2 separate regions of the Homo sapiens genome follow, and region 1 is linked to region 2. A link means that fine-mapping ties the variant in region 2 to the plasma level of a protein whose gene starts in the linked region. Region 2 holds a variant in brackets. A gene starts in the other region. All regions are shown on their forward strands.

Region 1 (2,907 bases), not on the chromosome of region 2:
ATGGAAGACACTATAGTAAAATCATTGTGGGTTTAGTTGTTATAACACATTTTAAAAATCTTTGATCCCAATCAATATTTATAAGAAAGAAGAAATATGGAATTATTTCCTGAGTCAAGGAGCAGGGAGAGAATGAGGAAGAAGAGGAGGAGGAGGAGGGGGAGGAGGAGACAATAAACCTACTTCCCAAAGTTAACAAACAAAAAGTGGGAAGAGGTCAAAGACTACAAGGAGTAGAATTAACGTCAATTGTTTCTATGTTTGAGTCTGAAAATTTTTTGTCCCTTCTCCACCAACCTATATATTGATACACATATAAATGCTAAAGGCATTTTTGAATTTGAACAGATCATTTTCTTTGTATGGCTGCCTTTAAAAAAAATTCAACCTGGTCACTCTTCCTCAACATTTACTGAGGTCTAAGTGTTCAATTTAGAACACATGCTTTAATAACTCAGAGACCTGTCATTTGTCACAAATCTTGCCTAGAGAAATACTCATTAGCGAATTAGGCAGAAAGAGGATGCAAAATAAAAAGGCACAGTAGTCCCCTGATATCCATGGAAGACTGGTTCCAGGACACCACCAAACCCCTCCCCGCAAATACCAAAATCCATGGATGTTCAAGTTTCTTAACATATCATGGCATAGTATTTGCATTTAACCTACACACATCCTCTTGTACACTTGAAATTATCTTTAGATTATTTATAATACTTAATAGAATGTAAATGCTATGTAACTAGTTGTGTATCATTTAGGAAATGATCACAAGAAAAAAAGTCTACAGATGTTAGTCCAGACACAGCCATCCTTTTTTTTTTTTTCAAATATTTTTGATCTGTGGTTCATTGCATCCACAGATGTGGAACCCATGGATACTGTGGGCTAACTGTATTAATAAAAAAGTGGAAACATCCTAAGTTTCATGGGTGTTTAAATTGGTCAGCAACTTCCTTCTGAAGAAGTATCAGAATTTGTGAGCAATGTTAATATTTTTGTTTTCTCACTAAGAGCCACAGTTCTGAATAGAGGTTTTTAAAAAGCCCTAGCAAGGTTTCTTTAGCAATGAAACTAACATTTAACTGTATCATCAGCTTCGTGTTACATCTCTTTCCTGACTGTTGGGTGAGCCCTCCTCGGATGCTTGCTTCTGGCTACACGCCCCTTTACCCTTTTCTCTGCACTGTTTTCATCTTTATAAAGTCAGAGTTGGTGTCTATAGGCTCTCTACTGCCACATTCAAGACCTGCCTCGCTCAATGTCACCTTCAAGATGCAGAAATAGGGATTTGGGAAGGGGATTGTGAAATTTTCGAAGTCTTCCAAAATACTTTGAGAAACTATATTTGGAAGCACTTTGGGGGGAGAGGTTGGACAGGAAGGGTCTTCAGAGATCATCAAATTTAACTTTCTAAATCCTAAGGAGGAAACCGAGACTCCAGGATGTGAAGTCCCTTCTCTACCAAACTAGAATGGATGCAGGAGGAATGTCTGAGGTGCAATCCTTATCCTTTAGCAAAGGTGTCCTCTGCGTCTTCTTTAACCCATCTCTTGGACCTCCAGAAAGACAGCTGAGGATGGCAAGGGGAGTCTGGAACCACTGGAGTAGCCCCCAGCCTCCTCCTTGGAGGGCCCCCATGAAGGAGGCCCTTCAGTGACAGAGATTGAGAGAGAGGGAGGGCGAAAGGAAGGAAGGGGAGCCAGAGGTGGGAGTGGAAGAGGCAGCCTCGCCTGGGGCTGATTGGCTCCCGAGGCCAGGGCTCTCCAAGCGGTTTATAAGAGTTGGGGCTGCCGGGCGCCCTGCCCGCTCGCCCGCGCGCCCCAGGACCCAAAGCCGGGCTCCAAGTCGGCGCCCCACGTCGAGGCTCCGCCGCAGCCTCCGGAGTTGGCCGCAGACAAGAAGGGGAGGGAGCGGGAGAGGGAGGAGAGCTCCGAAGCGAGAGGGCCGAGCGCCATGCGCCGCGCCAGCAGAGACTACACCAAGTACCTGCGTGGCTCGGAGGAGATGGGCGGCGGCCCCGGAGCCCCGCACGAGGGCCCCCTGCACGCCCCGCCGCCGCCTGCGCCGCACCAGCCCCCTGCCGCCTCCCGCTCCATGTTCGTGGCCCTCCTGGGGCTGGGGCTGGGCCAGGTTGTCTGCAGCGTCGCCCTGTTCTTCTATTTCAGAGCGCAGGTGAGTGGCCACCTTCCCAGGGGATCGCGGCTGAGAGCGCCCATCTCCTTCCCCCGCACTTGGAAACTGAGTCTGGCGGCAGGGCTGGGCCACCCAGAGCTTGCATATTCCGGAAGGGAAAGTGACTCCAGAAGGGAGAGAGGAAGTGTTGAGTTTGGGGACAACCTGGCGCAGGGCTGTCGGGCGCACCCTGCTCTCTCTCCGCCCACGCACCCCAGCTTCTCGGTGCTCTGGGGGCGGACTCCCCTGGCCGGACGATGGGTTTGAATCTCACCCCGTCCCTTCGCTGGGAAACAACACTGGCCTCTCACCTTTTCTGGTAGTGATTGCATACTTTTTCTCCCTGTCATTTCTCACTTGAAGTTAAGAATCAACTTCTGTTCACGTAGGAAAAAAGATGAGCGCCTTCACTTGGGCATCTACCTTTCCCTTCCCGCCCACCACCCGGCGGGTTTCGGTTCCTGCGCCTGGCTGCTCTGCAGGTGTGCTGGGGCCACGGTGCTGGAGGGCTGCGCGGAGCGGGAGGTCGCGGTGCTCGTGCCCAGGTCGCCCAATGGGTGGGCAGAATGACACGGCGCGACCAGAGAGGCGCGGGCTCGGGATGGGGGCTCTGCGGCTGTGGCGCTGTCCTGTGGGGGTGAAGGAAGAGGGACAGCCCCACGTGCCTGCTAGGGATGTGGGCGGAGGAAGGAAGCGAGGTGAGTGTGATGGCACAGTGTTACTACAGTCTAG
Region 2 (2,909 bases):
ATGAGACATCTGCCCTGAGACTGCTTTGCCTATAGGAAGGTTAGGGTGACCCATGCCTTGGAGAGAGGCCCAGAAATCCCCAGCCATCCCAGCTGAATCCAGGTCCCAACTGAAGAGAACCATATGATGAACCCAGAGGAAACCGGCAGAAAACCCGCCCAGCCTAATAAGTTGCTGTCCTATGCCACTAAGTTTTGGGGCTGTATTGTGCACAGCGCAAATACCTGGTATGACTATTTAGTTTACAGCTGGTCCATCTTCTTACCCATTCATCTCTTCCTTTGCTAGTCACAGGACTTTTTCTTGTTCAACTAGACTCCTCAGATGGGAGAAATGTAGAGCCCGGAGGCTGGTTGGAAGAAATTATATGTTTATTATCTTAATTCGAATCAGCCACCACCCCAGGCCACCTCAAATAGACTCACAGATTACAGATGAACCTGCCCCTCAATGCAATTAGCACGCCCTTCTCAGGACAGCTGGCCACTTAGAGCCCTGTGGCTGCCATTAGAACCAAAATACAAGTGAATTCAAAGTGATTCCAGACACTCCATGAATACAGGCTACTTACTGGGAAGGAACACCAGTCTGAAAATCTGAAAGAGGAAAAGTGAAATGCATTCGAAAAAAAAAACTAACTACAGTTTTATTGTTCCACAACACATACTGTAACTCACACTAAACACTGAAATGTTACCACCAACTGGTCCCTGGGTGGCTCTGATGAGTGAAGTGGCTTGGTTTGCAATTGGCATATTAATTGTTTGAATGCAAACAAGTTCCTCTAAAGTATCTGAAGCTGTTCGGTGAAGAGTTGATTCTCTTAAACACTTCAATATTAATACTGCAAACATTTACCCTGTGGGTGGGAGCAATGACTCAGGGAAATAAATCTCACATCTTTGCCTTCAGCCAGGTCTTCCTCCAAGACTTCAGATCTATAGTAACCACGTGTTTATGGAAAGCAGCCCCTGGAATGGATTTAACAGTGATAGCTTGCGTGTGCCAATCGCTGTGCTAACCACTACTCATTTAATTCTCACCACCACTCTATGAGACAGGCATTGCTTGTCTCCCCACTTTACAGAGGAAGGAAAGGCAGCTCAGAGGGGTTAAGTGACTCGTTCAAGGTTATGAAGTTGTGTGACTCCAAGTTCCACACTGTGACTTCCCCCAGCCCCACTCTGCCTCCCCATCTTGCCTCCTGTGTTTCTTTTTTCAGTGCCTATGTCCATTGTAGGTCCATCCATAGGTCCAAGCCACACACCTTCCAAAAGACCTCTTGAAAATCTCTCAAACATGGCCACTCTCTGCACCCACTGTGCCATGATTGCCATCCCAGATAATCACAATGTCCCCTAACTGGTCTCTCTCCCTCCATGTTGTCTTCCTCCAATTCATTCTCTTAACCACAGCTGGAGTCTGTCTACCCCAAGCCTGAGCTCCGGAGCTTAAACCCCACACGGCAGAAGGAGCAGAATTTTCCAAAGATAGTCAGGAGGGTAGCTGGGTGCAATGTTGGAAAAATGG[G/A]GATGTGTAGGCAGGGACAGAAACCGAGGGAGGAAAGCAAGGTTCAGAAAGGAAGAGGTGTCTGTAGAGATCACTTTCCATATGCAGGAAAAGCACAAGAGAAAGTCGAGGTTAATCATCTCTCCAATCTTTGTTCCTTCTCTGCAATAATTTACCTCTGAGATTGGCCTGACTCTCTAATAAAGAACTTTGAAGTGTGCAGAAAAAATCCGCACACAAAAACCGTGGTGAAAAAGGCCCTGCAGAATCTGGACCCTACAGGCTAGAGGATTCCCAGCCAGATTCTTACACATACACCCTCCTTTAAAAACACCTCTATATCCATATAAAAGTCCCCAAATACCCCATGCTCTCTTCCACCTTGGGGCCTTTGCACAGGCAGTTTCCAGAATCCACAGTTCTCTTCTTTCTCATGAGTCCCTCTACTAGCCAATTCCTACTTATCTTTCAGACTCCCATTTATACATCAGTTCCTTCTAAAAATGTTGCCTGAGCCTCAGGTCCCAATTAGGTGCCCTCAAAAAATATCTTCCTTGCTAACTTCCCCTCATTAACTGTCATTTGTTATACTTGTTTCTATTGATGGTGATGCTAATAACTATTGATAAATGAATAAATGAGTGATGTGTTTGCAACCCCAGTTTGGACTTGCCCAATCTGTGAGCCTGGGTCAAAGCGGTGCTATGGGCCCCAGGGCATGCCATGTCAGAAACAGACAAACCTCTGTCTAGGGAAACATACTCTGCCTCAAAGTTGAGTAAGAACTTGTATCTAAAAAGAGGCCTTTGGCTTCTTGGGCTCAGCTGTGGAACATGCTTGGAACACAGCAGTGAAGGGAGACATGAAGACAGCATAGGAAGAGGCAGAAGTGAGGGAAATAAGGATTAACCAGGACCAGGGTTAACCAGAAGTAAGGGTTAACAAGGGAAGCCACTTCCATTTTCAGTGGGTGTTCAAGGCAGGCAGCCTTCGGTTCAAATTTTATGTTCTACTGGGTCGTGAGAACTATCCATTTTTTTGTTTGTTTTTTGTTTTTGTGTTTGTTTTTTGAGATGGAGTCTCACTCTGTCGCCCAGGCTGGAGTGCATTTGTGGGACCTCGGCTCACCGCAACCTCTGCCTTCCAGATTCAAGCAATTCTCCTGCCTCAGCCTCCCAAGTATCTAGGATTACAGGTGCCTGCCACCGTGCCTGGCTAATTTTTTGTATTTTTAATAGAGATGGGGTTTCACCATGTTAGCCAGGCTGGTCTCGAACTCCTGACCTCAGGTGATCTGCAGCCCTGGCCAAGGACTATTCATTGTTATTGGTAACCAGAGGCCTTCTTTCTATTTTGTGAACATGCCAAGTTCTCTTCCCTGCCTCATGGCCTTTGCACCT

Alleles and levels. Positions count from the first base shown, and alleles are read on the strand shown. Strength reflects both the effect of a copy and how common the allele is.
With allele A in place of G in region 2, the plasma level of the protein whose gene starts at base 1,805 in region 1 is lower (weak association).

The links. A credible set is the group of variants that fine-mapping cannot tell apart. PIP is the chance, under the fine-mapping model, that this variant and not a neighbour inherited with it causes the effect. Protein levels are from antibody-based Olink assays in UK Biobank. Linkage for the fine-mapping came from a reference panel and not from the study's own genotypes, which makes the PIPs less certain.
Region 1: TNFSF11 starts here. The variant in region 2 is the best candidate, but not a certain one, in a credible set for the plasma level of the TNFSF11 protein (UK Biobank, PIP 0.59).

The regions. Positions count from the first base shown.
Region 1 is chr13:42,572,348-42,575,254 of GRCh38, forward strand. TNFSF11 (TNF superfamily member 11) reads left to right here and starts at 1,805. Exons shown (of 5, transcript NM_003701.4): 1 at 1,805-2,175. The coding sequence starts at 1,957. RefSeq lists a silencer at 1,743-2,112 and an enhancer at 2,203-2,402.
Region 2 is chr20:40,512,346-40,515,254 of GRCh38, forward strand. No RefSeq gene overlaps it. Among named protein-coding and RNA genes, the nearest start is that of MAFB, 180 kb to the right of the region's middle. The variant G/A (reference allele first, on the strand shown) is at 1,531.